Regions from separate parts of the Homo sapiens genome. Here regions 1, 2 and 3 are each reported to be linked to region 4. Evidence: microRNA targets listed by miRTarBase, many of them from high-throughput screens and not tested one by one. Region 4 holds a microRNA gene; each other region holds the end of a gene's coding sequence.
The links. The annotated mature microRNA hsa-miR-130a-3p reads CAGUGCAAUGUUAAAAGGGCAU and lies in region 4 at 2,945-2,966, opposite strand. An mRNA with a match to its seed (bases 2 to 7 or 8) in the 3' UTR can be bound and repressed. Matches are read on the target gene's strand: a 7mer-m8 pairs with bases 2 to 8, a 7mer-A1 pairs with bases 2 to 7 and ends in A, and an 8mer does both.

Region 1: miRTarBase lists DCBLD2 as a target of hsa-miR-130a-3p. Seed matches in the 3' UTR shown: 7mer-m8 at 5,932-5,938.
Region 2: the mRNA of RFXAP is a reported target of hsa-miR-130a-3p. Seed matches in the 3' UTR shown: 7mer-m8 at 1,958-1,964.
Region 3: the mRNA of ACP6 is a reported target of hsa-miR-130a-3p. Seed matches in the 3' UTR shown: 7mer-m8 at 4,479-4,485 and 7mer-A1 at 5,785-5,791.

Annotation. Positions count from the first base shown.
Region 1 is chr3:98,794,529-98,802,587 of GRCh38, reverse strand. DCBLD2 (discoidin, CUB and LCCL domain containing 2) reads left to right here. Exons shown (of 16, transcript NM_080927.4): 14 at 939-988; 15 at 1,872-2,009; 16 at 2,747-6,647. The coding sequence ends at 3,216. ST3GAL6 (ST3 beta-galactoside alpha-2,3-sialyltransferase 6) reads right to left here. Exons shown (of 10, transcript NM_001323368.2): 10 at 6,736-8,059. Among named protein-coding and RNA genes, the nearest start is that of ST3GAL6, 35 kb to the right of the region's middle.
Region 2 is chr13:36,825,949-36,834,007 of GRCh38, forward strand. RFXAP (regulatory factor X associated protein) reads left to right here. Exons shown (of 3, transcript NM_000538.4): 3 at 1,695-3,156. The coding sequence ends at 1,805. Among named protein-coding and RNA genes, the nearest start is that of RFXAP, 11 kb to the left of the region's middle.
Region 3 is chr1:147,641,454-147,649,512 of GRCh38, reverse strand. It overlaps ACP6 (acid phosphatase 6, lysophosphatidic), which reads left to right. Exons shown (of 10, transcript NM_016361.5): 9 at 1,102-1,267; 10 at 1,947-7,283. The coding sequence ends at 2,090. Among named protein-coding and RNA genes, the nearest start is that of ACP6, 25 kb to the left of the region's middle. RefSeq lists an enhancer at 7,658-8,059.
Region 4 is chr11:57,636,159-57,644,217 of GRCh38, reverse strand. It overlaps MIR130A (microRNA 130a), which reads right to left and starts at 3,020; the gene lies at 2,932-3,020. MIR130AHG (MIR130A host gene) reads right to left here and starts at 5,842. Exons shown (of 2, transcript NR_186232.1): 1 at 5,546-5,842. RefSeq lists enhancers at 449-948, 4,223-4,802 and silencers at 5,649-5,708, 5,729-5,918.

The DNA of each region.
Region 1 (8,059 bases), not on the chromosome of region 4:
AAAAGCCAGAATTGACAAATGGGATCTAATTAAACTAAACAGCTTCTGCACAGCAAAAGAAACTACCATCAAAGTGAGCAGGCAACCTACAGAATGGGAGAAAATTTTTGCAATCTACTCATCTGACAAAGGGCTAATATCCAGAATCTACAAAGAACTCAAACAAATTTACAAGAAAAAAAAACAACCCCATCAACAAGTGGGCGAAAGATATGAACAGACACTTCTCAAAAGAAGACATTTATGCAGCCAACAAACACATGAAAAAATGCTCATCATCACTGGCCATCAGAGAAATGCAAATCAAAACCACAATGAGATACCATCTCACACCAGTTAGAATGGTGATCATTAAAAAGTCAGGAAACAACAGGTGCTGGAGAGGATGTGGAGAAATAGGAACATTTTTACACTGTTGGTAGGACTGTAACCTAGTTCAACCATTGTGGAAGACAGTGTGGTGATTCCTCAGGGATCTAGAACTAGAAATACCATTTGACCCAGCCATCCCATTACTGGGTATATACCCAAAGGATTATAAATCATGCTGCTATAGAGACACATGCACACGTATGTTCATTGCAGCACTATTCAAAATAGCAAAGACTTGGAACCAACCCAAATGTCCATGAATGATAGATTGAATTAAGAAAATGTGGCACATATACACCATGGAATACTATGCAGCCATAAAAAATGATGAGTTCCTGTCCTTTGTAGTGACATGGATGAAGCTGGAAACCATCATTCTCAGCAAACTGTCCCAAGGACAAAAAACCAAACACCGCATGTTCTCACTCATAGGTGGGAATTGAACAATGAGAACACTTGGACACAGGAAGGGGAATATCACATACCAAGGCCTGTCATGGGGTAGGGGGAGCAGGCTTACCAGTGAATTTACTCTGTTTGCTAACTTCTCTTCTGTATTTTTCCAGAAAGAAAAAAACTGAAGGCACCTATGACTTACCTTACTGGGACCGGGCAGGTAACTCACGTGGTCTTTGCATCTCATTTCTATCAGAGGGATGTCGCTCCCCTACAGGGGGCAGTAGTGAAAAAAGAGTCATTCTCTGGCCCAGGTGAACTCCCCGACACTGTTAGAACAATGGCATTACTCTTCAGTTCTCACCATTTTTACCCTTCTGCAAAGTCTCTTGTAATTCCTAAGTAATGAAATGAAAAGTACAAATTTCTTAAAACAAGCTCTGTTCTTTTTCTTCTGGAAAACTTGTGTAGTTTGTCCTGTGTATCTGTTTCTCATGAGGAGACCGGCTTTCTGTGGCCCACGTGAACACTGAGTAAGAAACAAAAGACTGTGGTCTCCAGGACACAGTGTGTGTTTGTCCTCTGCCATGGTTATTCACCAAGTGGAGTCCAGCAGTTTAGGAATCGGGAGGTCTCCCATGATGAGTTGTCATCTTCTGAATTGCTGCAAGTGACACCAAAGGGGCCCCCCTACCAGTTTCTCACTTCCCAGTCTCACTACTGGATCAGCTCTTAGGAGCCAGGAGAGTTCACTGCTGTGGCTAGGATAGAAAAGGGCAGCTAGTGCCCCAGGGTAGATCTTGGAAAATATTTTTTGGGAAAAATGTAATTAAGGCCACCCCTAAAATAGATACTGTATCTGGCTGTACTATACTAACAGTGATTTGCCTGCATGTGTTTGATAGAGATTTCTACCATGTACTGCTTGGTGCTGGATAGTCTATCACAGCAAAAAAAAAAAAAAAAGTTGGATTATAAAGGCAAGTTTGTAGAGATATTTGTTATAGAAATGGCTTAAATGCAACAGGATTTTTCTCTTGATACTACTGTTTGAGATACAGGTTTTTATTTAATGGTCTCTTTGGCTTGCCGTCACAATGAAGGTTGGTGGAAAGGAATGAAGCAGTTTCTTCCTGCAAAAGCAGTGGACCATGAGGAAACCCCAGTTCGCTATAGCAGCAGCGAAGTTAATCACCTGAGTCCAAGAGAAGTCACCACAGTGCTGCAGGCTGACTCTGCAGGTAACTATGTTGCAGCCTTCTGGTACCAGGCAGAGGGAGAAACTGCTTAGGCTTGCTATAAAGTGCTTTGGGATTTACAGTTCTTTGATCCCTTTCATGTTTAAGAAATGAATTGTTTCCTAAAGGTAGAACCACTTTTTTAAAAGGTGACTCTTCAGAGAGTCATTTCTGTATCTTGGATATTCTGTCTGTAAAGTTGGGACATTGATTTCTAAAGACTCTGGGCATTATGTATGTTAACTGAGGCTTGTGGGGAGACCCGAGATGTTGAGAGGAGAGCGGGAAAGACAGAAGAAGCCTTACAGTGTTTATCCTCTTAGCCTAGTACATACTTATTTTAAACATTTCCTAATATTTGAAAAAAATCTCTGAAATTATTTTTCAAGATTAATATTTATTCCAGTAACTGAATGTTTCTTTTCCAATGAAATATTCTGAAAATAATTCAGAAAGGAAATATTCAGTAAAGAAATATGTTGTCTGTAAATCTAAAGAACATATGTGAAAATTCTATATGCAAAATTACATGAATGAGACTTTCTGGTATATTATTACTATGAGAAGTACTAGACAGTATGTTTAATTTTAATTTTCAAAGTTCTTACAGATTAAGTATTGATGGCAACAAAAGTATCCTAAAGAATGTTTGCTTTTAGTATAATCTGCAGCTGCCACCCTAAATTATGCAATCTCTTTACTAGTAAAATGACTTTTCTGTTGTTTTGTGATATCCACAGAGTATGCTCAGCCACTGGTAGGAGGAATTGTTGGTACACTTCATCAAAGATCTACCTTTAAACCAGAAGAAGGAAAAGAAGCAGGCTATGCAGACCTAGATCCTTACAACTCACCAGGGCAGGAAGTTTATCATGCCTATGCTGAACCACTCCCAATTACGGGGCCTGAGTATGCAACCCCAATCATCATGGACATGTCAGGGCACCCCACAACTTCAGTTGGTCAGCCCTCCACATCCACTTTCAAGGCTACGGGGAACCAACCTCCCCCACTAGTGGGAACTTACAATACACTTCTCTCCAGGACTGACAGCTGCTCCTCAGCCCAGGCCCAGTATGATACCCCGAAAGCTGGGAAGCCAGGTCTACCTGCCCCAGACGAATTGGTGTACCAGGTGCCACAGAGCACACAAGAAGTATCAGGAGCAGGAAGGGATGGGGAATGTGATGTTTTTAAAGAAATCCTTTGAAGATGATGCTGCTTTTTACAAAGCATCGTTTTAAAGCACATGGCCTTTTTTTTTTAATTATTAGTGGTAGTAATATATAGAATGTATTACATAACTGTCACTGAAGTGGTTGGGGAAAATGTGGTGACTGAGGTACAGGAAACTACTAATCTTGCCATCTTGCTTTAAGGTGTTATGGTGGCACAGTTACTGCTCGCCTGTTAAATTTCAAATGTCCTGTTTGATACTACTGTAGAACACTATTTTTAATACAGAAAAAGCTCCCTATAATGCACTTCAGAGAAATTAAAAATCACAGAGTATTTATTACCAATGCTGCAGGTACATTAATGAACTCGAGATGGCTCTGTAAGCCTGACTGGCAATAACGCACGGTACTGTTCTTGAAATACCTAATGGCTTGAAATTCTAGTCTGTTTGTGAAAGATGGGTACTATCATGATTTCCTCTTCTATTCCTATATTCTTTTCTGGATTTTTTTTAATAATTAGTGATATAAGCATTGTTTTTATTGCAGCCATATCCACTTATCCATCTTAAGATCTGTAGCTGGGATTTTCTGACTTGTAATGAGCAGGGGGATTGCTTTTTCACTTTGTGACACTCTTTAGAGCTTTAATGCTTCACAGTATATGGCCTGGTCTCATCCTTGCGTGTTCCACTTGAGGCCCTTTGGTGTCTTGCCCCATTCTTGTGTTTATAAAATGTTTGAGTATTTCTGATGAGTGATGCTTGCCTTAGTCTCATGAATTCAGATCCCTTCATGTCCTTTAAGTATGCTCCTCAATGTGTAAACAGGAACAACTTTATGATTTGAAAGCTTTAAAGGAGATTCTTCTCCCACCCCCAACTTTATTTGCAATGGGATTTTTCCTAGGAGAGTTATGAAAAGTTGAAGGCTTCTAAGGGAATACTGTAAACATGACCCACTTATATTTATCACAGTGAAAGGCAAAATTATTCACTCAGAAGTAATATAAATTACCTCTTTAAAAAGTAACCAGAATTTGTCCTTTTTGGTTTTATACATTCACAAACATATACATTTTTCTTGAGTCTCAAGGTATTTTATATTTTTAGTCAGAAAAAATAATTTTTCATTTCAGTTTTCCATAAACTGTTACACAAAATATAAACCTAACGTGTATTTTTCAGGACTGCGTGATCGTGCACTTTGTGTGGTAAGAGGTTTGAGTAGTCCTATATGTCACCTAGGGAACAGACATTATAGCTTACTAGCAAATGAATATTCATGCCTTGTTTTTGATACCTCCTGGCAGCTTCCATGTCACCACTTGTTCATACCTGCCCAGAGCTAGTTTTAGACATGGCAAAATAGAAATCATCTGTAATTTATTAGCTAACAATGTAAAACCATCTTTTAAAGCCTTCAGACTGTCAAGACGACATGAGCAGCTCACCATATGATAAAAATACATAAATTTGACATTCCCTCTTCCATAAACCTTTGTTTGTAGATTTAATGTTGAACAGTACTTTTCCATAAAGTTCTAGTCACTTCTGTTGGCCTGAGCCACCAGATTATGATGTTGCCAGAATTCACTCAATTTGAATAAAGATGAACAGTATTTGTTTTCTTGTTTCCATGAATTATATCAGTATTCTAAAACATCGCTTCAGAAAGAGAACTGTTTATTTCTGCAGGCTTCCTGTCCTTTTGTGGTATGGTTTTTTGGCCTTATTTTCACTGGCTTTTCCTTCTCCAAACTTTGAGGCGTGATTTCATTCATTGAAGAATCAATACATATTTTGTTTCAAAATGTTTGAAACAAAAGACATAGATGGTAGACTTTTATTAAAACATATATGGATGTGGAAAGCACATATATTAATGCAGTCATCCCTTTTCAGGTGGGAAGAGAGCAAACCAGTTGATTTTTTAATTCATCCTTAGTACACAGAGAATATACTTTTCCTCAAGTAATATACCTGTTTGAAGCTTTAAGAGAGATGTTTTTGGTAACTATTTCATTTTCCCAAAGAAGTTTGCTATTCTTGTGTTAATTGTGTATACCTGATTGTTTTTTCCTGGAGGTTTTTGTTGTTGTTGTTTAGTTTTGGGTTTTTTTTTTTTTAAGAGGGGCAAGTGTTTTCTGAAATGATGCATATTTTAAGACTCGATTCATATTGCCACTGTGCTATCCTTGAACTACCAATAATTTTTATAAAATATCTAGTTTTTACTACTTTTATATAAACTTTACTTTCCAGATGAAGAGCTGAGCCTGATTCAAATGGTTTTTCTGCTTTATACTTCTTTTTAGTTCATTGGTTTTTATAGTAGAGGTTTTCTATTTTTTTTTTTTTTTTTTTTACTACATTTATATGTCTGATACATATACGGCTTTGGAGACAATCAAGTAACAACTGAAAATGTGAAAGTAACCATATCTGACAAAATTCCCTTGAATTTTTATCCTTTGCTTGCAACATTTAAGACTCAAAGTCACTGGTATATTGGATTAAGTTTTTTCCTGTTAATGCAATTATAGAAATACATCGGAGACACAACAAATGTGGCCATTACAGGTTTCATAAAATTACACTGACTTGGCTGTTACTTGATCTTAGGAAACAGCACAGTTTAAGATATTGTGAATTCTGACTTATACTTTATTAAATGCTGTAAATCTAAATAGATCCTGTTGGATGTGATGGGTCTAGTCCAGTTTATTTAAGTTCATGTTTCACTGTTTGCACTTTGCATTGAACAATGGGTTTATTCGCTGATGTAAACGGTTCGAGTGAAGAATTAATGCAGTAAGTATGACAACACATACACACTTGCCTCTCCCCATCTCCAGAAGAGGGGAGCAGAGTCCGAGCTTATCTAAATATGAATGTGGCCACAAAGCTGTGGAAGGTGACAAAGCTTAAACACCTTTGCCCTGGCTCTGCATTGTCACCTAGAGAGCAAGAGGTCTATAGAAACATCATGTCACATGAAACGATTCTCTGCTTTTTGGTTCTGAACTTGAAGTCCCTAAACTGCAAAATCTAAGAGTTGGGTGGTTATTAAAATGCTTTTAAAGTCAACTGTGGCACCAATTCTAATGTAATCCAACTTGTGACTGTTTTTTTTTGTTTTGTTTTGTTTTTGTGTGTGTGTGTGTGGCACTGGGAAAAGTGGAAACAAACATGTATTGAAATACATATTGGAAATAAAAATGGTTTGAGCGTCAGTGATATTCTCCCAGAATGTACTTATCTTACCTCGGCATGTACTGTAGTCACTCAGTATTTGTATATGTTGCTAGAATTTAGATTGTAAAATAGTGAAATTTTAATGTGTTCATTTGTTTTTAATGTATATATGTCTTGCTCAGATTATTTGGTTTAAATAAAACAACCTTGAGGTTTGTAGCTTTTCCTTATACTATAAAATGCCAGATTCTTCTATTTTAACCTCACTAATTTATGGCCAATATTGTGCTTCCAGCAACATTTGAAAATGACACTGTTAGTTTACTTTGACTTTTTCTATGACCAGCGCCATCCTTTTTTTAAAAAAATAATTTCAACTTTTATTTTAGATTCTAAGGGTACATGTGCAGAGTGCAGGTTGTTACATGGGTATATTGTGTGATACTGAGGTTTGTGGTATGAATGATCCCATCATCCAGGTTGTGAGCATAGTACCCAATACATAGTCTTTCAGCCCTTGCCCTCCCCGCTCCCCTCGCTCCCCCCGCCGCAGTCCTCAGTGTCTATCGTTCCCATCTTTATGTCCTTGTGTACCCACAGCACCATTCTTTTTGAAGCCTGATTTACTTTATATCAATTGAACTTCAGCAGCCACACTGCAGCCTATGGCTGTGTGGTATGAGGGGAAAATCACACTGATTGATTACATGTGATTCCAGTTCTGGTACCTTCCTTTTGCACCTCAAAAAGTTATAAGAGGAATCAAAACTGTGGGACTCTGCAAACATATGCTGGTATTCATGTCTAATCTGGGTTAGATCAACTACTACTGTTCTCCCCTTTATTCTGCTTTATAAGTACCGCATTCTGTTTCTGAGCCAAATCTAATGTATTTCACCCTTTATACACCCTCTTTAGAGAGGCAGGTTGGTTGTCAGTAATCAAGCCATGGTTTTCCAGTGTTTCCCAATTGTATTTATTGGTCAAAAGAGAGTAATTCTTTCTTCAGCTCATACCTCTTCTGACAACTTTTAGTTCCATCCTTATAACCTCTATTTTTCTGTTTCTTCACCTCTCATTCCCCTACCTCCAGATGGCCTTTGGTTACATTTATTAAAATATAGGAAGGAAGACTAGCTCACCACATTTGTAGGATTGACTGGCTTGCATTGGATCAGATTCTCTGGTGCACCCTAGGTAGCCAGGCAAGCTTTCCATCTGAAGATTAGCTTTAATCATGGGAAAATGAGATATTCTTTTTGTACCATTTAAATCCAAAAATCCCAACTTCACTTTTTATATTTTTTAGAAGACAGCCTCACTCTGTCACCCAGGCTGAAGTGCAGTGGCGCGATCTTGGCTCACTGCAACCTCTGCCTCCCGGGCTCAAGCAATTCTCGTGCCTCAGCCTCCCGAGTACCTGGGACTACAGCGCATACCACCACGCCCAGCTAATTATTTTGTATTTTAGTAGAGATGAGGTTTCACCATGTTGGCCAGGCTGGTCTTGAACTCCTGAGTTCAGGCAATCCAGCTGCCTCCCTCGGCCTCCCAAAGTGTTTGTTAGGATTACAGGTGTGAGCCACCCTGCCCGGCCTCAGCTTGACTTTTCTTAAGTGTTTACTTGTTCTGTTATCTTCTTTACCTTTCCTAATTTACTTCAAGTGGAAAACCTTCA
Region 2 (8,059 bases), not on the chromosome of region 4:
GGATCACTTGAGGCTGGGAATTTGAGACCATTCTGGGCAACGTAGCGAGACCCCATCTACAAAAAAATTTAAAAATTAGCCGAGTGTGATGGTATGTAGCTGTAGTCCTGGCTACTCAAGAGGCTGAAACAGGAGGATTGCTTGAGTCCAGGAATTCGAGGCTGCAATGAGCTATGATCATACCACTGTACTCCAGCCTAGGCAACAGAGCACCCTATAAATCATTAAACATGATCAGTTTCCTTACATATATATAAAATATGTTTGCCTCTTTGACAGCTTCAGTCTTAACTGCAAAGAAAGTTTATTACAAAAATTCCTGTAATTTGATGAGGAAAACCTTTGGCTTCAATACATTGCAAAAGATAGAAACAGAAAAAAAAGGCAGAATACCATTAAATGATATGGAAAGGTATTCAATATCAGTAAAAATAAACAAAAAGTGAAAATTATTTAAACGATTACGCACAATGATGCAGTGATGTGGAGACTTTCATGAAATGGACATTCTCAAGTAGTTAATGGCATTATATATTGGTATGGCACTTTCAGAAAGCAGTTGGGCAATATGTACCAGGAGTCATCCCTTTCAACTCAGACATCACATTTAATATGAAGACATTTACAGAATGTAAATCCTAAATATGGATAGAGTTAAACATAAAGGTATTGCCAGGAATATATTTCTCATAAATAGTAAAAAAGGTAGTTGAAACAGCCTAAATGTCCAACAGTGTCATAACAGCTAAGATGATTTTTAAATAAAACTGTTTAATAAATAGAAAATGTACTAAGATATAATACATATAATCTGAAAGTCAGTATTTAATGATAGTATGTTCACTTTATTCAGTTTATCTTTTTGCAGCTTATTGGGGCCAAAGATTTTTTTCTCTATAAATTTATGTAAGTATTTTATTATAAAAACCTATTACAGGAGACTGTGGCAGGATGATTGCTTGAGCCGAGGAGTTCAAGACTGCAGTGAGCTATGCTCACGCCACTGCACTCCAGCGTGGGGAACAGAGTGAGACCCTGTCTCTAATAATAATATGTTAATCATAGTCTGTTATATTTGTTATATTATTACAACTATATTTTAAAGTGATGAGTGTACAAAAAGGTATTGGATGTTTTAGAGCAGTTATATTTTTTCCTGAAATTTTGGTATATACCGATATATATGTACATATATATATATACACACCTATACACACAATTTTTAATTTCTTTATGAAGACTTAGTTGCCTAATGAGAAACTTGACTTCTAGCACTAGTTTGTATGTATGTACAAACTGGCATTTAGCTGCTATTTTCACATGTGGCCCCCTTTCATCTCCATTTTTTTTCTTGCTATAATCCTGGGTCAGTGCTACTTTTAGCTCTTTGTTCTTACATATTTCAAGAGAGTATATTTGCTGGCATATTAGAGAAGGTGTTTCCTTTTTACACAAAGTCACCAATAACAGACTTCACCCGTTATTTTTAGGTTTTAGTATTTTGATGTGTGACATCACATTATTTTTAGTTTGCAGCTTAGTTGCAGTGCATCCGATGTAAAAGTGCTTTTGATTCAGGCATATTCTTGTGAACATATTGTATCATATGTAGGGACACATCAGAGTAATTAGCATGAAAACAGTCTAATGACATAGATTAATGCTATTAATAATTTTTTTCTTTTCTTTCTAAGTCGTTACTAAGAAGTCCAGAAGTAGTGCAATTTTTACAGAAACAGCAACAGCTATTAAATCAGCAAGTTTTGGAGCAAAGACAACAGCAGTTTCCAGGAACATCAATGTGAGGGAACTTACCAAGAACATCTACATGGTTTTTTATCTTATTGTAATAGATGAGCATATTTTTTTACCAGACATAAATGGGGTAATAATCTATGCCTGTAGAACATAAACATTTTCCTGTAAATGTATGTGTGCATTTGGGGATAAGTAAGTATTGCACTTTGTGCATCTAATCTTTCAGATTACTGTGAGTTTGAAGAAGTCAGCTTATCTTTCCAAATAACATTTAATTATAATGTTTTTTAAAAAATATATTCCTCTTCAGTCATTGTTACTGAAGGTAATGAAGCAGTTACTTTCTGTGGAAGTCATAAAGTTAATAGATATTAATCTTGACTCATCTAGCTCAGTGGTTCTCATCAAGGGTCAATTTGATTGTCATAGTGACCTTGAAAACCACTGGCTTTTAGTGAGTGGCCAGGAATGCTAAATGTTCTGCAGTGTCAGGGGTAGTCCCACATACTAAAGATTGTCTCACCCGCAGTGCCAATAACACTCCTAAGAAATGTTGATGGCTATTTTGTGGTGCTAACATGTAGTTGGGGCACCTATAATTGGGTTCTCTTAATAACCTTTCTTTGCAGTTAAGACTGAAGCTGTCAAAGAGGTAAGCACATTTTATATAGACGTAAGGAAAGTGATTATTGTTTAATATCTGTGAATTTAGGATGTGCATCTCTTTTCAGAGGTGTGTTAGTAAAACCTGACGGATTAACTAAGCACACTGGGATGTGTCTCCTACAGTTGGCTTCTCTCTTTGATGTTACCTGTTAGTGCTGATCTCTTAAAGCAGACATTTCTTGTTTGTTGAATTTGTGAACAGTATAGATCTCAGCCCACCAATGCCAAGACAAAATTATTTTTCTTATACTTATTTTTTATTAAACAAAATGAAAAAGATCCTTTTCAAAAAGGTGATCCTGAAAATAAAACTAACACTCCAGTATTTTGTCATTGTTTTTCGCAATTGAGCTATCTGAAAACTGTTATTCCTAAGTAATGTTCAAAAATGATAAGTAATCTGGATACCTTTTTCTTATACTTTCTCCTAGGAAAACTTTAAAACTTTAAAAAGGCAAACCTACCAATAGGAATAACAAATTAAATGTCAAGAGAGTATATCCAATATTAGGATATAAATGTATGTGTCTCAAGTTTAACTCTACAAAAATTTGTTACTTGTTTTTTAAACTCTATATATAAAGTTCGACTTAATCATGGCTGTTCTAAGAAGTACTTATGGAGAGCAAGAACGTTTTTGTTCATTTCTTAATGTGTGTGTTTTTACTTGCATATCTGTTCAAAACACTTTTAACAAAATTAATTCATTAAAGTCCAGTTGTTGACCTTTGAGTTAGCTGATTTCTTTATTCTGTTCTTTAGTTTATTCTTACTAGATGCAGAGGAATTCATCTACTGTCTGTTATTAACTGTTAGTTTATTCTCATACTTACGATGTTGAGAGTTTTTTTGAAGCTTAAGTTACCCTTTATGGTGGAAAACATTAGCTTATGCTTCTTTAGATGGAATAATGGGAAAGGAGGGAAATGGGAAATGGATGGAAATGGGAAAGGAGGGAAAATAATAGCCCAGTGAGAGCTGAATGAAAAGGGACTGAATTTAAATATTTGTAAGAACTTTGTGATGATGAGTAATTGTCAGACGTGGGATAGATAACTGAGAGGCTCAGAATCTTTACCAAGGATATTTTTTAGGATAAGGTAGCTGCCTGTTCATGAATTTGGATAAGAATAGTAGGACAATATTCAACACAATTTAATTTTTGTCTGCCACATTAGACATTTTTTTACCTTATAAAATGATCAATAAAGCAATAAGGTTTATTTTGGGTAGATGTATTGCAGTGTGTCTCCAGTTTTTTATCCTTGTGTTTACTCATGCCATTTGCCGTGTGACTTTGCTGCTCATCCTACCCATTGAGCTTGAGTTTATTTACCTACCCCTTAAATCTAGAGGACTGGCCTTGTGACTTGTTTTTGCCAGTAAAATGCAGAGGACATAACAAGATGCCATCTCTGAATAGACTTCTGAGAGTTTTGAACATTTCCACTTGTTTTTTTAGAGTCCTACCCTGCTGCCATGGTAAGAAGCCCAGCCTAGCTTCCTGGATAATGAGACACATAGTCCAGTCACCTGTATTGTACCAGCTAATAGCTCTCAACCAGCCACACATGTGAATGAGGCTATGCTAGATAAGCTGTCCAGCCAGCCTGCCAGCTGACCGCAGATACACTTGATAACCAACTGAGATCAGCCAAGCCTGGCCCAAATTTGCAGAGCCACCAAATTGACCTGTAGATTTGTGAGCAATTATAAATTATGATTGTAAGCCACAGAGTTTTGGGGTAGTGTGTTAGATGCAGCATTTTTGTGACAGTAGGTAGCTGATACACCTAGCTGCTATTTATTGTTGCAAAACAAATCACCTGAAAATTTGATGGCTTGAAGCCATTATTATTTCTCACAGTTCTGTATATGATTACTGTGATTTAAAATAGCTGTGCAAATGCTTTCAAGCTAGGTGTGGCAGACCATATTTTTCAAAGATGTCTGCACAGTATCTCTCACCCCACATGCTCTTATGCATTGTTGTCCATTAAGATATAAATTTTCTTTTCTATCCTTTTGAATCTGGGCAGGCTTATGACTGCTCTAACAAAATATGGCACAAGTGATTCTGTGCCAGTTCATTTGAGGAGATATGATAAATATACATGTCTATTTGTAGTAATAAGAACATAAAGGAATTCACAGCTTCCATTTTCCAGCAAAGCTGGAAAATCAGTCATATGATAATGTGGGGTGCAGGAAGTAGTAAGGGGCTTTAGAAAGAAAATATTAGGAAGATACATTAAAGTCAGTGAAAGAGACGGCTGGTAGCGGCTGGGACGATTGCTCACCAAAGTTGTCCCAGCACTTTGAGAGGCCTAGACAGGCAGATCGCTTGAGGTCAGGAGTTTGAGACCAGCCTGGTTAACGTGGTGAAACCCTGTCTCTACTGAAAATACAAAAATTAGCCAGGCATGGTGGCGCATGCCTGTAATCTCAGCTACTTGGGTGGCTGAGGCAGGAGAATTGCTTGAACCCAGGAGGCAGAGGCTGCAGTGAGCTGCGATTGCACTACTGTACTCCAGTCTGGACAACAGAGTGAGACACTGCCTCAAAAAAATAAAAAAGAGAGATGCCTAGTAGCTAGTAGCCTACTAGTAGTCCTCTGAGAGCATTTTTCCCCTTCTTTCATAGTAGAATTTTGGGTTGGGAACATAGCCATATATAACCATATAGCTGATTCTCACATACCATGCCAAGGAATCCAGATACAAATGACGTGTGTACGATTCTATTTACATAAAGTAGAAAAGCAGGTGAAACTATGCTGTCAGAACAGAGAAGCAGGATAAAACACCCGTGGGAGCAGGATACAGTCTAGAGGCTTGAGGAGGTTTCTGGTGTTCCAGAGATGCTTGCTTTTCCAGTTGCTGGTTAGGCATGTGTGTTCTATTAGTGAAAGTTCAACACGCTATGCATTTATGATTTTTGTACTTTTCAGTATATATTTTACACTTCAATTTTTTTAATAGTTGATTTTATTTTTTTAAGACTTTCTCACCTACCCCTGCAGTTGAGTGTGGCCATATGAGTAAATTCTGGCCAGTGGGATGTAAGCACAGGTGATAAGTGCAACTTCCAGATGGCAGCCCGGGGCAAGCAGCCCATTTCCTCTCTTCCTCCATCCTGCTGCCTGGAATGTGGACAAAGCAATGGAGCATCTATGGGCCAAATGAGGGTCATTCACTGGGGAAGGCGGAGTAACAAAATAGAAGGAATCTGTGTCCCTGGATGTCCTCAAGGAACTGAGCCACCACACTAGCATGGGATGCCCTTTCAACTACTATGGGAAAAAGAAATGGAGTGTATTGTTTCTACCAGTTATGATGATGGTATAACCACGGTTGTTGTTATTGTGACAGCCAGCCAAATCTGTTTTCTAAATAATACTATAGGGAAAAGGATTGACAAGTGGCATTAAGGACTTGGCCTACTGGAAACCAGGAATTTGTAATGGCAATCTGCAGTTATGTGATGCTGTTTCACTGGGCTCAGCCATCTGTATTAGTAGGAAACATAGATGATAGGCTTGATGTAGGGTTCATTTGGTGCAATAAGTAAGGGATGAGGACGTTAGGATGCTTCTGAAAGGACTTTTAGGAATAGGTTTGAGCTGAGCAGAGAAGAAATGAGGCTAATGGAGACTGGAGGTTCCTATGACATTGCAGTGTAAGTGTCGGAAGAATGAGAGCACAAGGTATTTCAGCTAGGAATCTATGGACTCAGGAAGTGAGCAGTACTCATTACACTCAATTAGTGACAGCCCCAATTTTTATTCTATAATATTTATCAATACACTTGGCCCTTAGAAATGCTCAGCAGCTAGACCATTAGGCTTCTGCTTGAAGAGTTGATTTGGAGCAATTAAATAAGCCTTTAGGATTTAATGGCAGGAAAGTCACTCAGGGAGGACCTACCTCAAGGAGAAGCTCAAAGCATTTTGCTTCAGCTCATCAAACAGAGCTCTGGAGCATTGCGAAAACGATTTTAAAAATGGCAAGACAAAAAAAGTAGAAAACTATGGAATAATGTTTTGCTTCAGGTGTAGCTAATCCAAACTGCCACAAAGGAAAATTGGGGCACTGGTGGTGTGGGATGAGAGGGTTCAGTAGTCAGGAGACAATCTTTTGTTGAAATGATCTTTTATATTGCTTGAATTCTTACCATGCATATATGACCTTTTCAGAAATGTTGTTCTTACTACAAACTAAAACAAAATCTTGTTAGAAATTGATGTCTAGGCATGGTGGCTCATGCCTGTAATCCCAGCATTTTGGGAAGCTGAGGAGGTGGATCACCTGAGGTCAGGAATTTGAGACCAGCCTGGCCAACATGGTGAAACCCCTTCTCTACTAATAATACAAAAAAAAAAAAAAAAAAGTAGCCGAGCATGGTGGCACGTGCCTGTAATCCCAGCTACTCAGGAGGCTGAGGCACAAGAATCACTTGAACCCAGGAGGCGGAGGTTGCAGTGAGCTGAGATTGCACCACTGCACTTCAGCCTGGGCAACAAAGTGAAACTGTGTCTCAAAAAAAAAAAAGGAAAGAAATTGAGATGTATAGACAACTTGTGCTTACAGTAATTGCTCCTTTGCTTTCTATTTTTCTAAAAAATTTCAAAAAGTGTTTTACTTGTGAATCTTTATTTACATATATGTAACACTTATGTGTAGTGAGATTTACAGGCCTTGGAGTTTACAGGCCATCCTGGGGTCCAAAATATATACTTCCCTGCTGGAGATACACCAAGAAAGTATAATCTAAAAACAATATGACAAAATCTGCCAATTTTCTAGCACTTTATAGTTTTCAAAACAATTATGCATATTTGCTTGCTCTCCACAACAATCCCGTAATGCATGCACAATTATTAGTTTATAAACACAGAAGCAGACTTTTCAAGGTTAAATTACTTGCTCAAGACTGCACAGCTATTGGACTTAAATCCAGGCCCTCTGATTCCAAATGACTTACTGCACAATGTTGGAAGCTTTCGTCACGGGCCAGTGCAATCTGGACACGCCCCTTGCATTTCGGCAGTGGATGCACCATCATGGGGCCATAAGAATAAAGCCTTTGCACAAATTAAGCCTTGATTTTTGGAATGTGTTAAAAGACAGATTTTATGTTAACCTTAATTATATTATTTTAGGAAGTATTTTCATTTGTGCTAATTTATTTGAACCTCAAAACATTGCAGGGCAAGTAGTATTGTCCTTGTTTTGACATGAGGAAAGCAACTCAGAGAAGTTAAAGTGACGTATAAACAGGTCATATTGTTAGAGCCAGAGCCAAGATTTGAACCTAAAATTGTCTCCAGAAATGATGCTTTTTCCAGATTAGTATGTTGTCGCTAAAGTAAAAACTAACACTTTCAAGTGCTTAGTTTATTTTTTCTTGAGATGGAGTTTCACTGTCGCCCAGGCTGGAGTGCAGTGGCACGATCTCAGCTCACTGCAACCTCTGCCTCCCGGGTTCAAGCGATTCTCCTGCCTCCACCTCCCGCGTAGCTGGAATTACAGGCATGCACCACCACGCCTGGCTAATTTTGTATTTTTAGCCAAGACAGAGTTTCACCATGTTGGCCAGGCTGGTCTTGAACTCCTGACCTCAAATGATCTGACTA
Region 3 (8,059 bases), not on the chromosome of region 4:
AGATCACACCACTGTACTCCAGCCTGGTGACAGAGCCAGGCTCTGTCTCAAAAAAAAAAAATGTTGGAAGTAGCTCATGAGCCTCCATTGCCACTTTTGGAGCCTTGAATCCAAGGTTGGGACTACGGCTGTGGAATATTATGTGTCCTAGGCACTTGCTAAGTGCGTTCTGCAGGAAAACAGCTTCACCGTTGCCCAAGAACTCATCAGGTTCTCAGGCTCCAGCCTGATCTACTAAATCAGCATCTGCAGTTTAACAAGATCCCCAGGTGATTGATAGTCACCTGAATTTTGGAGAAGCACTGTTGTGGTATCACAGCTAGAAACTCATGATGGCGTAAGAGGAATAGGAGACAGTGAGTTGAAACAGGAACTTTGGGCCAAGATTTGTAATAGCAAATCTTGTGAATACCATTTCCTGTCCTTCACAGTACCTGCAATGACAGTACATTTTTTCTGGCTTTTGCCACCTTGCCACCTTCTGCCTTGGATCTTTAGAACACCACAGGATCCAATGCTAGTCTTCTAGGATGGGGGTCCATAAATAAAATCCTTGGTCTTTCCTAAGAGATGGATACTGGTGTCAGGCAGATGTAGATTAAAATGGCATTCTTATTACAGATTAAAGCCATTTGGAGAATGTGCTGAGGGCCAAATGGGCTTGTGAATATTATTTTGAAATAAACTTAATACCCCAAAACTTCAAGCTTCCCCAACAAGGAGCCCTACTAAACTCATCCCATGGCTGAGAGTAGGAAGGGCATTCATGTAGGCTGGCAGGACCCAAAGAGAGAAGAGAGGTAGGGTCTAAGCCACACACGCTCAGTTTCTTCTTTGAAACTCACCAGGGAGGAGTGAGTAGGTGGCAAGGAGGAGGCCAGGAGAATTTCTCTGGCGGGGACCCTCCTCATGAAGACACGGGGAGTGGGAACAAGGGTTCTTCCCACGATCTACTGCAAAGGACTTTTATACCAGGCTCAGCTGATTTCTAGATGTCACCTAGTTTCTGAGGCAAGTGTGTCTTACGTAAAGGAGGCAGGCCACATCCTGACCTTCAGAGTCCTGAGGCAGAGAATTGTGGAGAGCTGTTTCCTCTTGCAGAAAGCTGTATCTCTATGCGGCTCATGATGTGACCTTCATACCGCTCTTAATGACCCTGGGGATTTTTGACCACAAATGGCCACCGTTTGCTGTTGACCTGACCATGGAACTTTACCAGCACCTGGAATCTAAGGAGTGGTTTGTGCAGCTCTATTACCACGGGAAGGTAATACCCCTGAGGTGGGGTTGGGTGGTGGTGAGGCACCCTCCTGCAAAACCCACCTACCTGAGTTAGCACCAAGTCTCCCTCCTCAGGCCCAGTGGAGTCTCTCTTGGCACAGTCAGCTCTCTGAATCCTATAGGGCAACTCCTGGCTATGGCCCAGGGGTCAGGCAGAACTTGACAGATGGTGGCAGGATGGGGCTTGAGCCTTATCCCAGTTCTGTTACAGACTCCTAGGAACAGGGTCCCCCTCCTCTTCTCCTGAGCGTCCCTGTCAGGATGTCGCCTCCTGGCTGTGAGACCTGTTTTGGAGATTGTTGGTGGTATCTTTGGGAGGTGATGTGTGCTGCTGTTAGCACCCGTGGTGTTGGCTGCTTCATCAGGGCTGGGGTCCAGGGCAGAGGCCAGAGCACGCCCCAGGGATGAGCCTGTTGGTTCTCCCAGCTCGGGGATGTAACTCGACTCTTTCTTCCCAGTCAATTCAACACTTTTTGAGTGACTTTTACAAGCAGAGCATAGTGCTTTTATTCTGGAAGCTCACCGGGTAGTGGGGCCTTCCTGTCTGTAATATGTATGCACATGTATACCACATGGATCAGAGCCTCTCAGATCTCTGGGCTTAGCTGGAAATAGCAGAAGGACAGGTTCCTCGGCGGACCTGCTGAGTTATGTTTCTTCTGCAGGAGCAGGTGCCGAGAGGTTGCCCTGATGGGCTCTGCCCGCTGGACATGTTCTTGAATGCCATGTCAGTTTATACCTTAAGCCCAGAAAAATACCACGCACTCTGCTCTCAAACTCAGGTGATGGAAGTTGGAAATGAAGAGTAACTGATTTATAAAAGCAGGATGTGTTGATTTTAAAATAAAGTGCCTTTATACAATGCCTCCTGCTTTGTGTGTTTGGGAAGAGGAGAGAGCAAGGGGTAATGTACTTTAATATAATGTAAGGATATTTCCTTTCTGTGGGTTTACTAAGATTTCTTCCTGAACGGAAAAGGGGTATAATATTGAGACCAAAAGGATATTTCTCTATTTTGTGAGTTGGTTTCTAAGGTTAGAAGCATCTTTGTGTGACACGGGCTGGGGACATCATGACCCTGTAGAATTGTGTCGGTTTTGGACTTTAGTTCTTTTCTCCTATATTAATTTCACATGTATTGAGCTACCTACTAAGTAGTGATCATTATAAAGGTGAAAACACTCTGCCCTCAAGTTGTTGCAGTCCAGTGGGAGAGGCAGCCGAGTAAATCAGTGATACAGTGCTGTATGTTTTATGCTGTAATAGGTATTTGAGGGGCTATTTGGGTATAGAGAAGAAACTTCCTGCTCACATGGCAGGGGATGTGGGGAACAGTCAAGGAAGGCTTCTGAAAAAGTCCTGGCCTGATCTGAGTAGAGAAAGGTGGGTAGGAGTTAACCAGGAAAGCAAGGATGAAAGCGTGTTGCGTTTAGATAAAGGATAGGCTTCAAGGTCAGGGAACGTTGCTGGGTGGTGAGATGGAACCCTGATGTGGAGGCTCAGCAGGAAGAAGCAGGAAGGACACTGGGCCCCTGGTGGTTTTAGTTCCAGAAACAAATGTGGGCCCCAGGGCTCTGCAATGGTAAGGCTGGAACTACTCAACATAAGAGCTCCACCTTTAACTGTGCCCCCTAAGAGTACCTGATGATCCCCCTATCTCCTTGTCAATGTTGCTGTTCTTCTCCAGAATCTATTTCAACCCTTCTCTGATTTCAAACCACCAGTCCCTTTACCTCTCAGAGAAAACAGCAACCACAAAAGCCTCTCCACTTCCTACTATCTTAATATTGACAACTTCCAGATCAGGGAGCTGAGATATCTCAAGCTCAGGTTTCTCTTCTGAGCTTCAGACACTTTTATCCACTTGGATTTCACTGGCACAAAACTTTCCATGTTAGAATCAAACCCCCCTCCTCCCAGACCTGCTTCTCCCACACACTTCCCTATCTGAATGAAAGACACCTCCACTCTCCACCCAGTTGCCAAATCAGAAATCTGTCTTTGTTTTCTTTGTCTCACATTTTCCTATGTCTAATCAGTTAAGTTTTATCAATACTACCTGTTTATTTCTTTAATCTATTCACATATCTTTATCCTCAATCTTCAGCATCCCCTTCCCATCCTCAGTCTGCTGGTTACTGTATTTCCTATTTTACTAAGAATCTAAAAGAGATCAGAAGAAAACTTCCACATCCCCCAACACCCAACCACCAAATCTGCTAACCCAGTTGCATTGGTGCTTTTATAGCCTTCCTTCCTCCCTCTTACTAAGAATGAACCAACACTATTCCTATCAAAGCCCAACCCTCTAGCTTTACATTGACTCCTAGTGTCTTTTTTCTGGATTGTCAATTTTTTTCCTGACCAATTATTCTATTAGCAATACAAATATGCTGTAAAATCTCTTAAACTTTTTTCTCTGCATCTTTGAACTGCTGTTCTCTTTTCCTTCTCCCCTTCATAGCAGAACTCCTCAAAAGAGTTGCTACCTCTAATTCTTCCCTTCCAGTTCTCTCATGAACCAGCTACAATTAAGTATTCACCCCCACCACTCCATGGAAACTGCTCTTGTCAAAATCATCAATAGCCTTTGTGTGGTGAATCCAATAGCCAGTTTTCATTCTTCTTACTAAGCTTCTCATCAGTATTCCTAGACTATTTCCTTCACTGGCTTCGACAAATGCTTTCTTGGTTTTCCTCCAATTTCTCGACTTTGTTCCTGCTGAATCTACCTTTTTCTAATCCGTAAGTGTTGGGGTGTCCCAGGGCTTACTCCTTGGACCTTTTTTCCACCTTTTCCCCTACACTCACCCACTAGGTGATCTCAAGAATTTCCAGTTTGAGGCCGGGCGCGGTGGCTCACGCCTGTAATCCCAGCACTTTGGGAGGCCAAGGCAGGCAGATCACCTGAGGCCAGGAGTTCGAGACCAGCCTGGCCAACATGGCAAAACCCTGTCTCCACTAAACCTGCCTCTACTAAAAATACAAAAATTATTATATTTTTATAAAATTATTATAATTTTATAAAATTATTATATTTATGGAGTACAATGTGATGTAATCCCAGCTACTCGGAAGGCTGTATGTGTCTATTTATGGAGTACAATGTGCCTGTAATCCCAGCTACTTGGGAGGCTGAGGCAGGAGAATCACTTCAACCTAGGAGGCAGAGGTTGTGCTGAGCCAAGATCGTGCCATTGCACTCCAGCCTGGGCAACAAGAGAGAAATAACATCTCAAAAAAAAAAAAAGAATTTCCAGTTTTAAATATTTACACAATGTCTCCTAAATTTATACCTTCAACCTAGACCTTTCCCTGTGAATCCCAGTCTCATTTCCAACAGTCTAATCAATGTCTCTATTTGGATGTTTAAGATATACAATAGGTATCAAACTTCCCATTGTCCACAATAAACTCTCAATTTCCGTGCCTTTTCAAACTTACTCCTTCCACAGGCTTTCCCATCTAGGTAAATGACACCACCATTCACCCTGTTGCTTTGGCCAAGAACTTTAGAACTGCCCTTGACTCCCCTCTTTTTCTCATATCCTACCTCTACTACATCAGTAACTCCTGTTGTATCTCTCTTCAAACTATATCCAGAATTGACCATGTCCCAATACTTCCATTGCTACTGTCTTAGTCCCAGTGTCATCTTTTACCTGGATTATTGTAAAGGCCTCGTAACTAGTCTTCCTGTTTCTGCCCTTCCCTTCTCTGCCCATCTATTCTCAACACAGTGTTGCTTTTAAAACAAAGTAAGATCGTGCCACTCTTCTGCTCTAAATTCCCCATTGGTTTCTCATCTCAAACTAAGGGCCAGTCATAATGCCCTCACGGTCCTATGACATCTCACTGCACCCCAGCCATACTCGCCATCTTACCATTCTTCTTCTTTTTTGTAATAAAAACTTTTTACTTTCTTTTTAGTTGACAGATAATAATTGCGTATATTTATGGAGTACAATGTGATGTTTTGATATATGTATGCATGAGGGAATGATTAAATCAAGCTAATTAACATATTCATCACTTCATCTACTCATCACTTTCTTGTGGTGAAAATGTTTCAGATATACTCTTTAGTAGTTTTCAGGTGTACAGTCGCTGTGGTTTGAGTGCTTTTGTCTTCTCTAAATTTGATGTTGACACTTAGTGCCCAGTACAATGTTACTGGGAGGTGGAGCCTAATGGGGATGTTTAATGGATTAATGCCATTATAAAAAGGGCTTGCAGGAATGGGTTCCTTCTCTTTTGCTTTTCTGCCATATGATGACAAAGTGTTCCTCCTCTCTGGAGGATGCAGCAACAGGCACCATCTTTGAAGCAGAGAGACCAGGCCCTAACCTTCTGGTGCCTTGATCTTGGACTTCTCAGCTTCCAGAACTGTGAGATAATAAATTTCTGTTCATTACAAATTACCCCATCTGTGGTATTCTGTTATAGCAACACAAAATGGACTAAGACAACAGTATACTGTTATGAACTATGGTCACCATGCTGTGCACTAGATCACAAAAACTTATTTCTACTGTTTAACTGAAACTTTGTACATTTTGACTAACATCTCCCTTTTTCCCATCATCCCATCCCATTCTTACTATCGTTGAAGATGGAGTATGCCAAGTAGTCCTGAGCCATGTCCTCACCTCGGGGTGAGCACCTGTTGTTCCTGTGCCTGGAATGCTCTCCTAGACATTTGCGTGGCTAGCTCCCTCTTTTCATTCAGATCTCAGCTCATTGTCATCTCAGAGAGGCCCTCCTTGCCCTCCTTCTACCTCCTGCCTTAGGTATACTCTGCCACCTTCTGTCATGGGCTGAATTGTGTCCCCCCTAAATCCATATGTTGACATCTTAACCCCTAGTACAGTAAGTCCTCACTTGATGCTATCAATAGGCTCTTGGAAATGTCGGCTTTCAGTGAAAGGACATATAGCAGGTCCTTGAATAACATTGTGTTTTGTTCAACATCGTTGCCTTGTAACACTGATGAGCAAAACAGTTGGTTCTCTAATATGTTGTTTTACTTAAAGCTACAGTTTCCAAGAACCTATCAATGATGTTGAGGACTGAATGTACCTCAGGTGTAATGTATTTGGAGATAGGGCCTTTTAAGAGGTAAAGTAAATGAGGTCATATGGGTAGGCTGTAATCCAATATGACTGGAATCCTTATAAGAAGAGGAAATGAGGACACAGACACAGAGGGAAGATGACTATCTGCAAGTCAAGGAGAGAGGCCTCAGAAGAAACCAATGCTGCTGACACCACGATCTTGGACTTCTAGCCTCTAGCACTGTGAGGAAATAAATTTCTGTTGTTTAAGCCACCTAGTCTGTGATACTTTGCTACGGCAGGCCCTAGCAAATGAATACACTTGTCTTGTCTTTCCCCCGCCCTGTGATATTTATCAGTGCCGGATATTACATATTTGTGTATCTATATGCTTATTTCCCTGACTAAAATGGAAGCTCCATGAAGGCAGATTTCCTCTTGTTCACTGATGTGTCCCCAGCACCTGGAATAGTGCCTAGTGCATGCCAGTGCTCAGACACTTGGACATTTGAATGACATATCCCCTCTGTCACTTCTCTCCGGGGCCCAAGGCCACCCTCCTAGGTTACCACAGTGGCTTCCTAATGGGCCATACCCTCACTTGCTTTCCATCACCCCCTGAGACCTGGCCCCTGCATACCTCTCCAGCTTCACCCCTCACATATCTCCCTAGCCAGACCTATAGTATGTTTAAAAAAAAAGGAAATCGCACTCCTCTGGCCTCTTTACCTTGGCACACATTTTTCCATCACCTGACCCCTGACCCACACTCCCTTTTCCTGTGTAATCCAATTATCTCTAGGCCTCCCGTGTTTCTGTTTGTCCTTCAATAGAAGGTTGTTTGTCTTGTCTTTTATTGTATTTCTAGAACCAAGTGCAGAGACTGTACAAAGTGGACCTCAGCAAAGATTTACCGAATGAATAAATGAGTTCAGAACGCTGACTTAACTCTTCTGTTGGCACCCAGGTGGCTTCTATGCACTCTCCTTCCACTCACCACCAGGGGGAAGCATGGAGTAAAGGAAAACACCAAGGCTTTCGCTGGGTTCAAATTCTGACAGCGTATTTATTTCCTTGCAACGCTTGGACGGGTGTTTCTGAGCCTGTTTTTCCTCTCATGTAAAAATGGGCATAATGATACGTACTAATTAGGGTTGTTGTGAGAATCAATTAAGGAAACGTATAAGTGCCTTCAAGTATTCTTATTTTCCCTTTTCTCTTTCATCTCACTTCCCACGAGATTCTTAACTGTGGTAGGTTTCGCAAGCCAAGGGAGCCTTTGGGGATGCTCCTCTGCAGGCAGCGCCCCGCCTCCGCCTGCCCTTCCCGGGGCACTGTGCCTGTGTGTGCAGGAGATTTGTACAGAACCCTGGCTCCCTCACTCACCAGTTGTGTGACTGTGGGCATGTCACTTAATTTCTCTGAGCTTCCATTTTCCCAACTATAAAGCGGGGAAGTTAATGTTTATCTACCTGATGATTTGTCCTGAGGATGGAAAATAGGGTGTGAAAAGCTCTTCATAAATTCCTAACCTGTCCCTGCCTTGACTCCTTTCTCTAAGGGGCCTCAGAGTGCTGTTGAGGTTTAAAGAATTCCCACAGGAGGCTCTCACCCGTGTATGGCAAAGTGAAAGGCTTCCCAGGACGGAGGAGAGCCAGGCTTGCCAGGGAAGGCCGACTTCATCTGCGGCTCCCCTGATAGCTCTTCCCGAGGGCCTCGTGGCT
Region 4 (8,059 bases):
CAGTTACAGGGGAGACCATATACATCATAAAGATCATTTTTTGGTAAGCTATAATATTCTTTCCAGATTCATTCATTAATATTCCAAATATTTATAAAGCATCTATTACTTGCCAGGCATTGTGTTAAGCACTAGATGTTAAGCACATGGTGAAGATAAGGCAGCTGTGACCTGACTTCCTGGAGCTTTCTGTCCAGTAGGAGATGCAATAACCAGGAAATCCCAGTAGAAGATGATAATAAGGGATCTAAGCAGGGACGTGGAGGAAGCTTGGGAGCTCATAGGAAAGGAACTCAGCTTAGATGTAAGGAGTCAAGGAAGGCTTCACAAAAGCGATGACTACGATGGCATTTGAAAGATAAGAAGTTAGGTAGGCAAAGGCAAAAGTGATGGAAGTATTTCAGACAGAGTATGTGTCAAGTAACTTAAGTTTAGTTAATTGAAGGAAATAAAAGTTGCTTGTGGGCTGAAAGCAGTGGCTCACGCCTTAATTCCAGCACTTTAGGAAGCCAAGGCTGGAGGCTTGCTTGAGGCCAAACTTTGAGGTTAGCCTGGGCAATATAGCAAGATCTTGTCTCAAAAAAAAAAAAGCCATACCTGCACCTGTAGTCTCGACTACTCAGGAGGCTGAGCAGGAGGATCACTTGAGCCCAGGAGGCTGAGGTTGCAGTGAGCCATGATCACGCCACTGCACTCCAGCCTGGGCTGGAGCAAAACTTTGTCTCCTTAAAAAGTGGGTGAGAGGACATGAAAGGAAAGAGAAGCAGGAGCCATAAACTATTTAGGGAATCTAGATTTAATCCCAATGGTATTAGGGAAATATGGGAAAATTATTGTTTTTTAGAGTGGAGTGGCAGTATCAAATGGCTATTTGTGCCCAGACAAGAGGCTCAAATAGAAGTTTTAATAGACTGGAGAAAGTAAGGAACATATGGTAGGGTGCGGTGGCTCACACCCGTAATCCCAGCACTTTGGGAGGCTGAGGTGGGCGATCACTTGAGGCCAAGAGTTTCAGACCAGCTTGGACAACAAAAATTAGCCAGGCATGGTGGTGCACGCCTGTAATCCCAGCTACTCAGGAGGTTGAGGCAGGAGAATCACTTGAACCTGGTAGGCAGAGGTTGCAGTGGGCCGAGATCGCGCCACTGCACTCCAGCCTGGGCGACAGTGAGATTCTGTCTTAAAAAAAAAAAAAAAAGGGAAATAAAGCTAACTGTACTATCTCAAATACTGTTGTTGTGATCAGAATGGAGAGGCTGTCTGGGCAGGAGAAAGGAGGACTAGAACTGGAAGGCACAGAAGTAAAAGGGCAAGGGAAAAAGGCAAGCCATGGAGAGATGTCCAACATCCCTCAACTAAGGCCTCAGGGGAGTCTGACCCATCTTTCAGTTTCTACATGCCTCATGATGCCAAGATCCCTCTCAGGGTCCAGCAGAGGACCTCAAAACCCTATTCCTCTTGGACCCATTTCTTGCACCAAAGTTTAGGGAAGATTTCTCAAGTCCCAAACTCTGCTGTTGAAAACCAGGCACAAACTAGCTGCCTTCTTCACTTGATCTTAGCCAAAAGACCAGGAATACTAGCTGCCTTCTTAAAGAAGCTCCCCAAATATTCCTCTCATTCAATTTATTTTAACAAGTTTTAATTAAGCCTACTAGGCACTGTGGGAGACAGAGAAGTAAATGGCTGAGTCATTGCTCTCAAATTTTTCTTTCTTTTTTTTTTTTTTTGAGATGGAGTCTCGCTCTGTTGCCCAGGCTGGAGTGCAGTGGCGCAATCTCGGCTCACTTCAACTTCTGCCTCCAAGATTCATTCAAGAGTCTCCTGCCTCAGCCACCCAAGTAGCTGAGACTACAGGCGTGCATTACCACGCCTGGCTAATTTTTGTATTTTTAGTAGAGACGAGGTTTCACCATGTTGGCCAGGCTGGTCTTGAACCCCTGACCTCAGGTGATCCGCCCGCCTCGGCCTCCCAAAGTGTTGGGATTACAGGCGTGAGCCACCGCACCCGGCCTCAATTTCCTTGTAATTGGTCCTGGGAGAATCATTCTGTGGGTTGATTCAAGGGATCCTATTAATCTTTAAGATTAAGTCATGGGCAACGCTGTCCAAATCTTGGATGCCCAGACAGGTGTGCCCTCAAGCAGCATTACCATCAAACACCCCGTGACCAAGAGGGAGTGGTGCTGAGAAAGGTAAGTGGATTCAGGGAAGGAGTGAGGTCTTTCCATGCCTCATGAGCCAGGGAAGGAGCTGTAGGTATGGGATGCCAGCAGCACACAGGTCCTTTTCTTTGGGGAGCAATCCTCTCGAGTTAACCCCCTTTCCTTTCTGGTGCATTCCTTTTTTTCTCAAGGAGGCCTACTCTGTACCTAATAGTGATTCTCCTAATCTTTTTCCACTCACTCTCCATTCCGGGCTGAGTCTGGGAATGCTTATCCTTCTTAGCCTAAGGAGTTGCCACCACTTCTGGTCCTTAAAGGTTTGAGGCTTTGGAAGATATCCTCATACAACCAGCAGATGGCATCAAAACCTTCCACCCCTCAGCTCAGGAAATCTCCCAGTTTGAAGAACCTATTCAGATCTCTCCAGATGGGTCTACAAAAAGATGAGTGAGCTGTCAAGACTTAACACAGGGTTGTATCTAGGCTTTGCAACCTAAGAGCTACACAATCTTAGCCAAACTGTTTAAACCTTTCTGACCCTCAGTTTTTCATCCATAAAATGGGGCTGTTACCTCCCAGAAGTTATTAGGTTTCACAGTAACGGAGGCAGTGTCTATCACAAGCACTGCATACAGAAGTAGTTCCATAAATGAGAGCTATTAGTATAACTAACAAGTGAGGCTACCCAGATTCCCACCAGGGTAGCTGACTGGTGCCCAGATGGGAGAGGAATTGCAATGCTGAGGAGGCAGCCAGCGCTGGGTAGCACTACACGGCCAATGCCCTTTTAACATTGCACTGCTAGTGACAGGTGCAGACAGTAGCACAATGTGAAAAGAGCTCTGGCCAGCAGCAGAGGCATGCCGGCCCTGCCTCCTCACTCCTTCTCCCAGTCCCTGGCCCACTCAGCTCACGGGCTCCCTCTGCCCCTTCTTTGCTTCAATACAGCTTTTTTCCCTTTTATTCCATTCTTAGTGTTCATTCTATTTTTTCACCACTCTTCCTTTTGCCGCCTTCTTCACCAACCCCCTGACCCCCAGCACAGAGACCACCTTTTTCTTGGAGGTTTTGGCATGGGAGGACAGGACCCACTAAAGCAGCTGCAGGGATACTTCGGGCTTGATGCTCAGTCCTCAAAGAAAACGGCTATTAGCAATCCCCAAAGTCTGGAGGTCACTCGTATGAGGCTGTGTTCATCTGGATTTGCATTTCCGCTAGCTTACCTTCTAGAGAGGAGCTTGCTGCCCAAGACTACAGAACCCTCTACTCTTCTCTAAGTTTCCATCTCCTTTTAAATTTAGATAAAGCAGAGCTCTAGGCCTCAAGGCAACACTCTCAGATGACCTTCCAGGACCAGAGAGGTGGGAGCCTGTAGTCACAGCTCCCCACGCAGTAGAGAGAAGCTTCCAGGCGGGGAGGTGAAAGCTGCTGGTGAAGCCCCACCCCTGCATCTCCTTTTGGAGGTCCTGAAAGCACTTTGCAGATTCAGCATTAAAATGGTGAGGGTGATTCGCTCACAGTTACTGAGAGTTAGGGATAGGCTTTCACTGGCAGTGGGATTCACATCTGAGTTATTTCCTGTCTTATCCAGGGACCCTTGGTTGGGGAGTCTTCAAGCTCATCCTAGCACTTCCCCATCCTATCCAACCCTAAGGGGGCTTAAATACAGGACAAACAGTCCCCGGAAGATTAACACCCAAAGCCAGAAAGCTGCCCTGGAAGGACACCTGGATATCTGGAGGCTCAGACCCAGGCAGGCTCTATTGTGGCACATTCCAGCTAGGGCCACAGCCCCGGAGCCCAGCTCCAGTTCTGACCCAGTGAACTTTGGGCAGCCCAGAGAAACAGAGGCTGGAGGGTGATTCCTCCAGTGCCCCGATCAACGAAGGGGAGATGCCTTCTTCCCTAATCCACAGCCACCGTAAGGAATAGAGGACAGAATTCCAGTTGGGAGCTCTTCCTCTGGGCTTCCCTCTAGCCTCGTCCCACCCCCTCAGGAAGCAGGAGACGTTCCCTCCCGCTCTCCCCGGCAGAGTTTGTTCCCGTAATCTGCAAACATGGGGCCCTGCCCTACAGTTTTAATGGGCGGAAACCAAGACCCCTCGAGGGTCAGTGACCTCTCTGCTCTGGGGTTGGGCAAACCAGGCCCAGCTGGGAACTGGATCACACCAACAGGGGGCAGAGGGGCAAAGATAAGGCTGCACAGCAAGCTTCAGGGAGGCCAGGGGAAGATTCTTCCCCAAGAAGTTTCCAGGTCTCTCCTTAGGGAGTGCAGGGAGAAAGGGCCAAGAGCCCCTCAGCTCTCACACACCCAACTCATTCCTGAGGAGCAGGCCCAGCGACTCACCAGCCAGCAGGACCCCTCCCCCACCTTGGGCCCAGGAGCCAGCCCCCAGCTCCTTCCAGAAGCGAGTGTAGAGACCGAGGAGGAAATGGGGGAGGGGAGGCCCCGGCTCAAGTTCTCTCCTCTCCCCCTCCTCATTGGCCACCATCTTCCGGCCCCTGCCCCCAGAGCAGCAGGGGATGGGGCCCAGCCTGTGAAAGGGAGAGAAAGGGCAGGTGGGGGGTTAGCTGGAGCAGCAGGGGCAGGGGGCTGGCCCCAACTGTCTCCTCCCACCCCCTCCTCGCAGCCATGGCGACGGGAGGAGGAGACCAGGAGGGTCCTGAAAGCCATGTTCTGTGAATGGGATGAGAGAGGCAGCTGGGAAGTGGGGGGTGAGGGGCGCTCTCCTTCAACACCCAACTGTGCTCCCCCCGAACACACACACCTCGAGGCTGGACCACACAGGCGCACGTACACACCACACACACACACACACACACACACAAACTCTCAGCCATACTTGCTGCACAACTCAGCCCTCATTACACACCCAAACAACAAGAACTGGAGTGTGAGCGCACGCCCCCCACACACACACATCCCCGCACCCCTCAACACCCCACAACTATCAGCTCGAAAACCAGCCTCACACCCCCACACCGCCCCTGGCTCACCCTACAACTTCTGGAGGTGCAGAACTCCCTGCCCTGCTCCAGCCCTTCGGCCCCCGGTCCCCCTCGGAACACTCCACGCCCTCGCACACAACCCAGGTGGAGACAGATGGCCCAGCTCGGCCGTGCCCAGCGGAGCCCCCCATCCCTACCCCACCACGCCCCCCACTGGAAAATGACAGTGAGGCCACCTCAGAAAGACACGCCTGGTGCTTCCCAGTTACAGTGTTTCCAAAGGAAAAAATAGAAAAGATGCCCACGAGTGGAGAATGAGGAGGGAAAAAGGAAGACGAGAGAAAGAGCCCAGACCGTCCCCCTCCCTTCCCCAAGAGAGAATAAAACCGAAAATCGGTGTCGTTACCCTTCGGGAAGCTCTCGATACCTACACATTGCTCTTCGTTAGGATCCTCTGCCTGCCACCTCCTTCTTCCCGGGCTCTTTCTCTGCCCTTCCCTCCCTCTTGGCTCCCCTCCCTGGCCTCGCTCCCCCTCGCTCACGCCCTCTCGCACCCCGCCAGCCCCTCTCCCGGGCCGGGCTTGGATCCCCAGCGGCCGCCCCGCCACCCGCCGGCCGGGACCGAGGTTGCGAGGCCGGTGGGCCGCGGAGACCCTCTCCTCTGCCGATCTCGCTCTTCCCCCCTCGCCCCCTTTCTCCTTCCACACTCCCTGCCGTCCATCTTGAATACTTGGGATTCTTGAATGGAGTGAGCAGGATCCGCTCCCCCAGGCTCCCATTGGCTGTGGGTTAACCCTTTTGAAACGAGATCCTCCCTCCCATTGGCTGCCAGGCTCCCCTCTTCTCCCCCAACCCCCATCCCCTCCGCCTCCCAACAGTCCGCGAGGTCAGGGCGCTCCCGGAGCCCCCTCCCCTGGCTTCTCACCTCAACAACCCCCGCACCAGGACGCCCCTCTCCCCGCTCTTTCCGTCACGCCCCGCACAGGGCTGCAGGTGAAGGCAGATCCAGTTCCCGCCAAATGCGGCCCCAAGGTGGGGCTGGCAGAAACCCTGTTCCCAGATGCCCCTCGTGCTGGATTTGGAGACCTTGGAAGATACAAGGGGTGCAATTTCCTGCCCGTCTCCAACCCCTCCTTGACCAGAAGTACTTCTGCAACAGGGGATCCACTCAGCCTTTCAGCCTCACCCAAGGCGGTGGGAGAGCGTTCCTGAACGCCCGCGCTTCTTGGGCTGGCCAGGAAGAGGGCAGCTCTAGAAAGAAGATCTGGGGCTCTTCACCGAAGCTAATTCCCCGAGTGCCGCAGGGCAGGCCTGACCCGATCAGGAATGTGCAGCATCTGGAGCTCCGCTCCGTCAAAAACATCCCCTCAGACCAGCCCTGCCCCGCCTGGGCCAACGTGCTGTGCGCCCACAAGGGGCTCTGAGGTGGGGGAGCCCAGAGAGGAAGGCGGCAGCAAGGACGAGGGCGATATGTCAGGCCTTGGAGTAAGGTCCGGGGTTTTAGGCCTAGATCTGCCATTAAGATGCAGGGCGAGGCTGGGCGCGGTGGCTAACGCCTATAATCCAAGCACTTTGAGAGGCTGAGGTGGGAGGATTGCTTGAGCCCAGGAGTTCCAGACCACCCTGGGCAACACACTGAGACTCTATCTCTACGAAAAATAAAAAAATTAGCTGGGCGTCGTGGTGTGGCCTATGGTCCCAGCTACTAGGGAGGCTGAGATGGGAGGATCGCTTAAGCCTAGGAGTTCCAGGTTGCAGTGAGCTATGATCGGGCTCGGTGGCTCATGCCTGTAATCCTAGCATTCTGGGAGGCCGAGGCGGGTGGATCACCTGAGTTCAGGAGTTAAAGACCAGCCTGGCCAACATGGTGAAAACCCGTCTCTACTAAAAATACCAAAATTATCTGGGCGTGGTGGTGCTTGCCTGTAATCCCAGTTACTTGGGAGACTGAGGCAGGAGAATCGCTTGAACCCAGGAGGCAGAAGTTACAGTGAACCGAGATCAAATCATTGTACTCCAGTCTGGGTGAAAAGAGCGAAACTCTATCTCAAAAAAAAAGCTTGGCGAGGTCATGTTTCCTTTTTAGCTTCAGTTTCCTCGTTTGCAAAACGTTGGTCTAGGACAGCGCAGTCCTGATAGAAGTTTCTGTGAGAAGATGGAAATGTTCTATATCTGCATCATTGTAGAAAATTACATATATCGTGGTCCCTTTTCAAAATAAAATGTCTCAGATAGGCTTGGGTCCACAAACCACAGGAGAACAAGATCCACTAAGCCCCTACCTTAATAGCTGGCATCTGCTGGTTGGGGCCCCTTAGCTGCCCTCACCCGAACCAAACAGTTTAGTTGAGCTTGAAAGATAGCTAACTTTATCAGCTTGCCTTAACTACCTGGGTCATAAGTCAAACAGTTGAAGGACCCCCCAAGATGGCTGCAATGCATTATGGGCTGCAACAAAATGCAATGGGGCAACCCTAAAGAAAACACCTAAAGCCCCAACCCAACAACCAACAGGCGACGCTGGGGAAGATTGTGACCCCATAGTACTCAGCCTATGAGGAACGGGGGGAGGGATTTGTGCACTAGGGGATAAATTGCTTGTTGTAACTGTCCTGGGTGTGCCTGCCTACCACACACCTGATCTTGCAAGACTGTCATTAAAAGTCTCACTTTCGCTGTTCCTCGTGCCTCTAGGTCCATTCTTTGGGTTTAGATGGGTGAGCATGTTTCTCTCAGTCATCAAACAATATGGTAGCCACTAGCTACGTGTGACTGTTGAGCCCTTAAATGTGCTACCGTGACTGAGGAAGTGGCTTTTTAATTTTATTTCATTTTAATTACTTTCATACAGCCACATGAGGCTAGTGGCTACTATATTAAACGGTCTAGAAAATCTTTGTGGTGTTGCTAATAAGAATAAAATTCTATGACCCTTTTTTTTTTTT